2 separate regions of the Homo sapiens genome follow, and region 2 is linked to region 1. Evidence: fine-mapped expression QTL. A gene starts in region 1. The other region holds a variant in brackets. All regions are shown on one strand. Distances are from middle to middle.

Region 1 (5,378 bases):
AAGCAGATTTTGTGAAATAAGGTCTTATCTCAATGGCCTGATGATCCAGAGTGTTTGCAGGCCCTCAGAGGTAAAAATACAACAGTATAATCTAATGTTGTTTTTCCCCAAGGAAAAAACAAGAGGGGTCTCTGAAGAAACCAAGCCTATTTCCCAAATCGCCTATGGTCATCTGCAAAAAAATGGAAGGGAGGCCCAGGGCCAGGGATGCCGAGGTGGTGTGGGCACATGAGGAGGACATTGGCAAGAAGGCTGCCCAGGCTTGCGAAATTTGCAGTGGACAATTTGCACAGGGTCTGTTAAAAGGCACATGCAGAGTAAAGGTAGCTTAGATTAGATGATGCTGTTTTATCAGCTATTAAAGAGAAAGCAAAACCTGGAATTTACTGATTGTTTCGTCCAGCCCATTCATTTTTACCAAGGCACACTATACGCAGAGCCTAGGATTAAACACCCACATCTCCCGATCCTCTCAGTCCACTGCTGTGTTTACTTTCCACATTGTTCTCTCAAAAGCCTGAAAGCTGGAATCAGACCCCTTGGATTCAAGCGCTGCATGGGAGCTGCATGACCTTGGGCAAGTTTCTTAACCTTCCCATGCTTCAGGTTCCTCACCTGTAAAAGGCGAGAATAGTAATGACAGTATCTTCCTGGTATGGTTGTTATTGGGATTAAAATGCACTTCAAAGAAGGTCTGGTACATAGGAGACCTTAAATAAATGGTAGCCATAATATCAACGATTATTATTACTTCCAGTTTCAGCATCACAGAGAATCATTTTTAAGTAGGAAAGCCTGCATGGGAGGCATCTGCATTGCAACACTCGCTTGGTTCTGGGTGCCACATTAAGTCCGAGATAAGAAATCACTTTCGCATAAAGAAAGGCCTCTAACAACTTCTCAGCTGGCGCTGGAGGAGCTCTCTCACACAGGTGGAGTTCAAAGGGAGGTGGCACGACCCGACACCAATGCTGAAAGCAGACTCCTGCGTGGAGTGGAGGCATGGCCTAGATGACCTTTAAAATGCTAAAAAGTCTATGATTTTGAGACCTTTGAGACTAGCAGCCTTGGGGGCAGTCACTTTGCTTAGCTTAGTGGCCGGCTTTATGGTCACCTTGGACGTGAAGAGCATAGTTCTGTCTGAACTTTGCTCCAGTTCTATGTAAGAGGACAAGCTCTGGTGTCACAGCTAAAACTTCCAAATACTCAAGTTGGAGGGGACTTTGAATTTATTTGTGAACAGACAATTGCACACTTGAAAATGCCAACACATAAGGGAACACACTCAGCTTTGCTAACTAACAAGATTGAGCTCATTACAAACTCTCCAGCCAGGGGATATTTCATTCTTAAAAGAGGAGTAGAAATCCTGTGTGTGTGTGTTTGGGGGGCTGGGGAGGGGAGAAGAATATATCAGTCAACATTGTTTCCTCCCGCGCTCCCAAACATAGGCTAACTGTGAAGAGCCAGGACGCCCACCGAGTCCTGGCAGCGTTGCAAGGTGGGGAGGGGGCGGGCGCGGTCCTGTCGCTAGTGACTGCAGATTTCCTCTGCGGGGCACTTCCTACGGCCTTTGATCTTTCCCCAGGAACTGCCGAGGGCCGCGTTTGCCTCTAAGTTTATTCCCTCTTGGTTTATTTATTGTATCTGCTTTCTCTTCTCGCTGGTTTGGAGGTCAGAACGCCAGTATGCAACGGGACTTGTGTCCCAGGCAGGGTCTCCCCTCTCCAGGCACTACCGCGAAATCTGGCAAAAGGTACATTTTACTGAGTCCTAGGGCAGCAAATTCAGCGGCGGAGAAAGAGTCTTTCTCCATTCAGGAGACAACCCAGGAAGCCCGATCCCGGGATCAGAGGCCAGGACCCCGCCCCGGCCCCCTGCCCCAGGCCCAGCTGGGCGCCGCCCAGGGGCTTTTCTCGGTCCGCCTGGGGGCTCGAGCTCGCGTCCCTCCCTAAGACGCCAGGCTTAACTTGGAGTTTCATCTCCTCCCCAGGAGGGTCTCAAGTTGCCTTCCTCTGCCGGGAAGGGCCCCCACTCCCCCGCTCCAGGCCCTAATCTCCACCCGGCGTCCCAGTCTGAGCGGCCTGGCCTCAGCTCTCCATCTGCGAGCCTTAAATCCCATTTATCTTCTTAGCGCCTCAGACCCGGACGGTCCCGCCTCTCTTCCTCTCACCCCCACCCCACTTGCAAATCACAGACCCCCGTCTACCCCTCGCATCCCCCAAGTGCGCTGGACCAACTACAGCAACCTTTGAGGTGTTAGAAAAAGTCGCCTAGAGGGGCGCGGCAGGAGGAGGGCCCAGGTGGGGTGGAGGGGGGGCGCCCCAAGATTTCAGGGTGAGGACCGCGGAGGGTCCTGGACCCGCAGTCGCCTAACTCCTGCCCTGCGTCTCCAGTGCTTGAAGTCGGTCCCTCCCAGGTCCCCAATCTAGGTCACCAGCGGGGAAGGGCTGCGCTGGGGGTCGCTAGAGAGGGTGAGGGGCGGGCTGTCTGCTTCCGAGGTGGGCGAGGAGTGAAGGTTTCAGGGCCTGTCCCTCTCACTTCCACTCGATTGTAATTTCATCCCCGGGCCGGTCGAGCCTCCCTCCCTCCCGCGGCCAGCCCTTCCCTCCCAGTCGGCCTCCTTCGTCGCCCCCGCCCCCGCGAAAAGCCCTGCAGCTTGCAGCCGGCTTCACTCGCGCACGCCGACCTCCCGGCTGCAGTCCTACCTCTTGGAACTACCCGTGTTTCCGGGCCCAGCCCTCGCAGCCCCCCACCTCCTCGCCCCGGCCCGGGGATCCGTTGGGGCCGCGTCCCCCACGCGCCCCCGGAGACGCCCTTTCCGTGTGCGCCCGGGACTTGGTGAAACTTTGCAGGCGCCGGCTGCGAAATGGATTTAATCCGAGGCGTCTTGCTCCGGCTCCTGCTCCTGGCTTCCAGCCTCGGACCCGGCGCGGTGTCGCTCCGAGCGGCCATCCGAAAACCAGGTAATGCGCTCCTCCGCCCAGAGCCACCACGCCCCGAGCGCCCCTGCTGGGCTCCGGGGCGAGGACACAGAGCGGGCAGCGCACCGCCTCCCTCTCCCCGACCAACGTCTGCTTAACTCGCTTCAGCTCTGCCAGGAGCTGAGAAAAGACGCAAACCTCGCCCTCCCCCGAGCCCGGGCGGCGCTAGGGATATTTATTTATTAAAAGAATGATCAATTTTCCAGACATAGTAGATAGAGGTGGTGGTCCCCGTGTTTGACCGCAGAGAGCTGACAGTTGGGACAGCGATCGTGCTGTCTCAATTACAGAGGATGGCAACCATGCAGAGGAGTCAAACCAGCCCCTCCTGCGTCTCCAAACATTTTACTCAATTCATATTGTCCAGAGCCCAGCCATTTCCTGTTAAGTGTCTGAAGGGTTGCCTGGAGCCCCCTCTGCCCATCTCGGGTCCTGCCCACGCGTTGTGCAGGGATGTGGACTCTGCTCTTAGCATCCTCTTCCACTCTGGGGCCATTTGTTCAGAAGGAAGCACCCAGTGGGTTAATTTTACCGTGTTTTGAACTCCTGTCTTTGCTTTGGCATTTAAACAAAGAAATGTACGTTGTAACCTGTTATAAGGGACTGGGAATTGGGGGAGAACTTGAAACCATAATAACGTGTGTTTCCTCTAGCTGCATATAGGTAAAAAGTCTTCGTTTATTTTGGTCTACTTTGATTTGGCCTATGCTGTGAGATTATTCAAAGTAGAACATTCTGAACAATGAAGTTCTAAACATTGTTTCCCAAATAACGATTTTTATTACTTTTTGCTGGGACCATATTTAGAATTCTGAAAAATCTGTTTTGTCTTAACTTACTTTGTAAGGGAGGTTGTCTTATGGGATTAATTATATCTTATGAACAATGGAAAACAATATTACTTTTATTTGAATGCAGTCTGCAAAACCTCACAGAAAGTGCAGTTTGTCTTCACAAACGTTTCTGTAAGAAAGAGGCAAAGCTAGGAAAATTTATCAGAGGGCAGAGAAAATCGTCTTAGCGGGATCCCATGTGAATGCTTAAATATTTTCGCATTGAAACTCTCTATCTGGAAATATGACTTGTTGCATTTCGGCTCTGGAAGCGTCCTCAGTCTTTGCACTGTGTCTCTTATTACCAGCACTTGTTACCTGCCTTGAAATCTAAGGTCATTATCATAATCTACACCATATTTAAATTATGAGCCACTCCATTTATGAGCTCTTCAATTCATTTTGGAGATAATAGCTTCAGTCCAAGGTAATATCACATTAAATTGTTTCTCTTCCTGCACGCACACATACATATACCTTCAAGGATTTCAGTGAAGGGCTTCTTTCTAACTTTCCTCCTTAAGATAACCACATCACGATCAATTGCATTTTGCAGATTTATTCACATGAAATCATCTATTAATTGTCACAATTTTTAAACAAAGCATAGTTATATCTATAGTTTTAAAGCATGAACAGTGTATGCAATGCTTTTTAAAGGATATATTTTAATCCATTTAAGGGGAATTTTTAAAAAGCATTTTATAAAAACCTGTTGTATAAAACTGCTCATGTGGGTCATCATATTTTCCTTCTTATTTTTTGGAGTTCTTCTCCTAAAAAGATTTTCTACCTGGTTCATTCAGGGTCTCATTCTGATATTCATGCCAGGAATATGCCATGCTGGCCTCTTTGGTTTTATTTGAAGCATAGATAGGGTTTTGATAGTGGAAACACCACCTCTTAAATACTTTGGCATATTAATTACATCAAATTTGAGATAGAAGTGTTTAGACTAGGTTCAACCTAGAAGAGTTTTATTTTTATTACTTTATAATTTTATCCAGACACTAGCTTTCAGGTTGGAAAGCTTCTCAGATTAAAATGACAGCTACTTCATAACTTCAGGGGAAATTTCCCTCCTGGGCTCATTTACATCCCTTGGAAAGACTAGTTTTTGATCCGGAAAATTGGTCCAGATTAAAAAACTGAATGTGCCCTGCTTGGCTCTGATGTGAGCAGCAACTAGCTAATTTATAATCTTCCCCAGACACTAGCAAATCCTGCTAGTATCCATATGGGAGTTTCTTTGTACCTTGTTTCCTCAACAGAAATTGGTACATAGACAGTACTTTGAAGGTATCGTGGCCACGGTGCAGGCATACTGGAGCGGTTCTGTCTTATTTGGATGACCCTCCCTATCTCCTCATACTCCTAAATCTACTTTTGATAAGTATAGCATTGTTGGAGAAGTCTTGGATTCAAAATCAACCTGGAAATTCCCCATCCGCACCTACCTCTGGTGAGAAAAAACTGAGTAGCAGCTTCAAGTCTGAGTCTAGTTTGGGTTCAACACAAGCAACCTTTCTCTTCACCCCAAGATAGCTCATCTTTTGACATT
Region 2 (5,378 bases), 200 kb after region 1:
TGGGGTCCAGCAATCCGTGTGGTAACCGCTTCCCCAGACGATTCTGATACCCTCAAAGCTTTGAGTTCCATGGGGGAACTCATTTCTTGGACTTCTACTTCTTAATTCACCCTCTGATGACTAGCTCAAGTGTTTGCTAAATGATATGAAAGTAATTGAATTGAAATAGACAAAGCAGGGATCACTAAACAGTGGAGAAGCTGAAGACTTAATTCTGGGGCTTCTGTTGGTCCTGTGCTAAGATTACTGACAGCCCAAGTAGGATAACAGAAATCTTTCTGTTTGAATAAAAGGCATTTTGAGAGGAAATGTCACTTGTCCAATGTTATGCTATTCCCTAAATAGCAGAGCATGCTAAGTGACTCCATCTTATGATTGTTGGGGACTTTGGAGACTCATATGTAGTTGAGGCTGGATGCTGGCAGGTGAGAGGCAGCTTCTCACCATCTCTGCCTTCCTGTCCTCCGTAGCCTCCCACCCATTGCTAGCCCAGAGGTTGAACACGGAGCTCTTCACACCCTATTTCAGGCTGGCTGCCTTGAAGCCATTTTCTTATGGTTTTCCTGTGGTTAACCTCATCAAGGCCTCAAGTACTTGATTGTGCCCAGAAAAGAGAACCGAAACAGAAGCTCAGCTGTGGGTGGGATGGTCCAACTTCCCCCTAAACTGCCAGCTGAATCTATTCACCACCCATTCTACTCCAGTAGGGAAACAGCTCCCACCAGCTCCCATGCCCAGCCCTGGAGAGCCCCCTCCCCTCTCCCACCTGCTTAGGATCCTTCAAAGAGCTCTGCTTTATCCTGAACATACTTCTTGTTACCATTTCTTTCTCAGGATTCTGAAAATTGGCCCTCTGTTTTTCTTCCAATCCTGGAGTTCTGATTGTGATCTGTGTAAGACACACTGCTGAACCCAGGCCGAGGTCGACTTCTGTGCCTGCTCTGGTCCTGGAGCCGCCCCATTGCTGCCACTCTGTTCTTCCTCCATCTGGGCTGTTATCCCACCACATCAATGTCCCCGATGCTGATGTAGGGAAGCGTACCGGCGGGCTGGGGACAGAGAGGAATTCCAGTGTAGGCCAGTGGTTTGAAGATGTCAGCGGTGTGGTGGGCACCGGGTCTGATTAGAAACAAGCACCCGGGTGTTTCCGGGACCCATGCCCTGAGAAACAGGGTCTGAAGTGGCTTTGGAATCACACATGCCTGATCCCCCACGTGGGCTCATGAGTTACCTAAATCTCAGCCTCTGTCCCCTCCTTGCAAAACGACAGGGTTCGCTGTAAAGATTAAATGAATGAATTCATGTAAGGGGTTCAGTGTGGGGTCAGGTGTAGCTAATTAATGATAATGATAAGAAAAATTATGATCCTTGCTCAAGCATTTTCTGAGTCTTAGAAGCCTTTACCTCAGAGAGAGAACACGTAGTTATTATTAAAATGTAGTTCTTATTTTTATTATTGTTATTGTTATTTTTAATAAGTCACGGGCCCTGCGCCCAAGGGGCACAGATCTGTGCAGTCTGGAGAGTGAATTGTTCTACAGAGCAGACAAATCGTTCTTGAGGTTTCAGTGTTTGATCCAGGCTCAAAGCAGATGGAAGAGGAACCCTAAGATAATAAAATATAGTCCCAACTTTCATGACTTTCTTTACCTAAAAGCTGGTTCTTTGGCTAATTTAGTGCTCAAAGGCTTTCTGCCAGAGAATAGGGAAAAACAATGGGATTCTAAAAATGTATATATGTATATATATTTATAGTTTTGGTGCAAGATTTAGCAGAAAAAATAAGGAAATCAAAGTGCTCAGTGAAAATGAGTGTGTTTTTCTGTTTTCTGTTTTGTTTTTGTTTTGTTTCATTTTGTTTTGTGATTGTATGTGGGGCATAAAACCTACCACCGGTGGGGTTTGTGAACATTGCTTGACTGTTCACAGTGAACACTGCCCGCTTAGTTTCACCTCATCACATCTTCATGCAACGAAGAGGGGGAAGAGACTTGACATTAGCAAAGTGCCTTGTGCTACAATTTAAAGGGGGCATGATTAAAAGTGCCACCACAGGAAAGCAGGAAGGTGGCCGAGTGGTTTCCAAAAGGCCTCACCTGAAGGTATTTCCGGGTGGCCCACCTTGGTGCTCTGGCTCACAGCCTCTAGTGCACACCAAGCTGAGTGGCTCAGAATAACCCATCATGGCAACCAGGTTCCCAAGACGTGGGTAGAGAAGTTAGACATACATTCTTATATCTGTTTGTTTCTACATTTTTATACTGAGGCATACCTTCCATGCCATGCACACCTGTTCAGTGTAGAGCTTGATACATTTAGAATATGTAAACACTGAATCACTGTCACCCAGAACAAGATATAGAACATGTCCACCACCCAAAAATGCTCCCTCATTCTTCTCCCAGTGAAGGTAACCACTCTTCTTGGTCATTTATGATTATATACACGAGGGAGCTTTTCCAGGGTGAGTATCAGCACGTCAGAGGAAGCGGGAGGTTCTTTGGAGGGTCTGAAATCAGATGGAATTGAAGGGTTGGGGAATCGGGCCATGGAGAAGCCAACTGAGTTGCCCCCTCCCACAGTGATGGCTGGATTCCTGTCTGCCAGGTTCACGGTTGACTCCCTAGAGCACATTCTAGCTCTTGGCCTGAACAGGAGAGTTGTCGGGCTGCAGAACAGAAGGAAGGGCACCCTTTGTCTAGATGGGCTCTTAGACAACTGAAAAGGTTTTCATTCACTGCACCACAATCATGTTCCAATCCAGCCTCCCTTCACGTACACAGCCAGATCACCTTGATTCTGAGATCTGGGTGTTCCGGACTGCTTTGGTTATATATTGACAGCTTGTTGGCTTACTTTCACACATGGCTAGTCTTCAGAAGAGGTGTGACATATTCAAGCCTTGGTGGCAACTTTCTCCTTCCTACCAGTCCCTTGGGGTGCATTGTCAACCCCGTATCCAAGCTGCACTAAGTGCTGCCTCTGTTGGGAGTGGTGGGATTTTTCATTTGGCTCCTACGATGTGCAGTGCTTCCTACATATGTCATGTTACTTAGCATTCCCTAGGATTCTTCAGGGAAGGGATTATTATCCCCGTTTGACAGATGAGAATATGAAGCAAGTTGCCCAAGGTCACAGAGCTGTTAACTAGCGAGTCTGGGGATCAAGGCAGGTCCGTTGAATCTGAGTGTCCGTGCTCTTTCTATCACCCC[A/G]CGCTGCCTCTCAGAACGGCCATAGATAGTAATTCAGCTAAGTTTCTGCCCACCAGCAACTCGCCCTACTTCCTATTCATTCAAGAAGTATTTAGCCACCAAATCATGAAATCTCAAAATTCCGCCACCAGGCTGCTTTATACAAGGAGGTACTTGATGTGGGAAAACTCATTAGAAAACAGTGGACTTTTCAGGGTCAGAGTGGCAGCTTTGTCCCAGGGTTTGTCAAGTCACCCCAAGTCCTATTCTTGGTTAAATGTCAATGGGCTGTGTGAGTTCTTCGAGCCTCCATTATTAAAGGAATGATCTATGGTGCTTTCTCTGGAGAAAGCCAAGCACTTTCTATTCTTGCTGTTTTCTCAGAATGAGTACATGCCAGTGCTTGTTAACTCATCCAGATTTTCTCTCGACATCCCTCTCTCTTGGGCAATGAGGTGAAGGAGAGATATGTCCTCTTACAAAATGAGGAGGGAGTCATCCCAGGTGGAACATACTTCCCTTCAAAAGCTTGATGGCCTAGGCTTTATTGTATTATCCAGGGAAAGTCTGGGCAGTTGGCCCAGTGCCCGGGCTAGAGTAGTCACTCACTAAATATTTGTCGAATTAAATTTAATTAGAATAATTGAATGAACACTGGATTAAGGGGGATATTTCTCTCTGGTAACAACATGTTCATGTTTTCTGAAACCCTTATGGTATCGGGGTATCTGGGAACTGAAATAGAAAATAGGAAGCCACTAGAGAAACCTGATAGCAGAGTTAAATGGATAAGGGCAGAGGATACACCAAGTTCAAGTTCTACATTAGGTTTGTGATTTTAGGCAAATTCCCTTAATCTCTCTGGGGCTCACCCTACTCTGCAATGTTCATTTTTTTTTAAAAAGTGAAAACAGATGCATTCATTTCTTAGGGCTCTGATAATACATGACCACAAATTAGGTGGCTTAAAACAATAGAAGTGGGCTCTCTCACAGTTCTGAAGGCTAGAAATCCACCATGCAGTGCAAGGGTTGGCTTCTTCTGGAGGGTCTCAGGGAGAATCGGCTCCATGCCTGTCCCCCAGGTTCTGGTGGTGGCTGGCAGCCCTTGGCATTCCTTGGCTTGGAGATGCCCCATTCCAGTCCCTGCCTCCAGTTTCCCATGGCTTTCCCTGTCTCTGTGTGTCTCTGGCTCCATGTCCAAATCTCTTCTCATAAAGATACCAGTTATATTGGATCCATGGCTGCCCTAATCCAGTATGACTTCATTTTAACTAATGAATCTGCAAAGACCCTATTTTCAAATAAGTAACATTCTGAGGCTCTGGGTAGACATGAATTTGGCGGGTGGAGGGAGGGGGCAGACCATCATCGTAACATAGTATAAAACATTACACATGATAAAGCCCTTCTTGTTATTCCTGATACTTTAGTACTGATGTTGCCTTACATGAGGGCATTAAAAAACAATCTTGATAACATTATGCTAAGTGAAGTAAGCCAGTCACAGTCACAAAAAAGACAAATACTCTATGATGCCACTCATATGAGGTATGTAGAAGAATCAAATCCACAGAGTCAGAAGGTAGAAGGCTGGTTGTCAGGGGCTGGGGGGAGGGAAGAATGAGGGGTTATTATTTAATGCAATGCTTTTGTTTTGTAAGATGAGTTTTGGAAATTGCCAGCCCAACAATATGAATATGTACTTAATGCTGCGGCACTGTATGCTTAAAAATGGTTACGATGGCCATGGTTATGTTACATATATTTTACCATAATTTAAAAGTTTAATAATTTTTAATTTCATGAACCAGCCTAGAAACCCAACAACTTTTATAACACTCTTGTTTTTTGTTAAGGAAACTGCACTCTGAGTTGCAAAGAACTTTTGCCCTGAGAATCGTCTGTGAACCGTGTCTGCTTATGCCTCAGTGTTTTATTCTGTTCTCTGTCTTCTTCTTCTCCAATGCCTTAGCTATAACCTGGGCAGTGGTGTGGCATCCATCATGGTGAATGGCTCCTTCAACGATGGTCGGTGGCACCGAGTTAAGGCCGTTAGGTGAGTCCCTCCCGCAGCATGAGGCAGAGCCAGAGCTGAGCAGTGGTGGGATGTGGTGTCCAGTTCCCTTGTAGTCCCACTGTCCTGTTCCCCAACTTTGCCTGGCATCCTAGTTACCCCTGATCCAGG

Alleles and levels. Alleles are on the strand shown, and positions count from the first base shown. SD is a standard deviation of normalised expression in the study named.
For the expression in skeletal muscle of the gene that starts at base 2,674 in region 1, allele A in region 2 goes with a higher level than allele G (small effect, 0.30 SD a copy in GTEx).

What was found. PIP is the estimated chance that this variant, and not a neighbour inherited with it, causes the effect.
Region 2: its variant is the best candidate, but not a certain one, in a credible set for the expression of EGFLAM in skeletal muscle (GTEx, PIP 0.87).

The regions. Positions count from the first base shown.
Region 1 is chr5:38,255,886-38,261,263 of GRCh38, forward strand. It overlaps EGFLAM (EGF like, fibronectin type III and laminin G domains), which reads left to right and starts at 2,674. Exons shown (of 22, transcript NM_152403.4): 1 at 2,674-2,966. The coding sequence starts at 2,870. It overlaps LOC124900966 (a long non-coding RNA gene), which reads right to left and starts at 2,781. Exons shown (of 2, transcript XR_007058739.1): 1 at 2,709-2,781; 2 at 1,212-1,746. RefSeq lists an enhancer at 1,304-1,805.
Region 2 is chr5:38,453,146-38,458,523 of GRCh38, forward strand. It overlaps EGFLAM (EGF like, fibronectin type III and laminin G domains), which reads left to right. Exons shown (of 22, transcript NM_152403.4): 20 at 5,166-5,249. The region is part of intron 1 of EGFLAM-AS5 (EGFLAM antisense RNA 5); the gene reads right to left. Among named protein-coding and RNA genes, the nearest start is that of EGFLAM-AS5, 13 kb to the right of the region's middle. The variant A/G (reference allele first, on the strand shown) is at 3,213.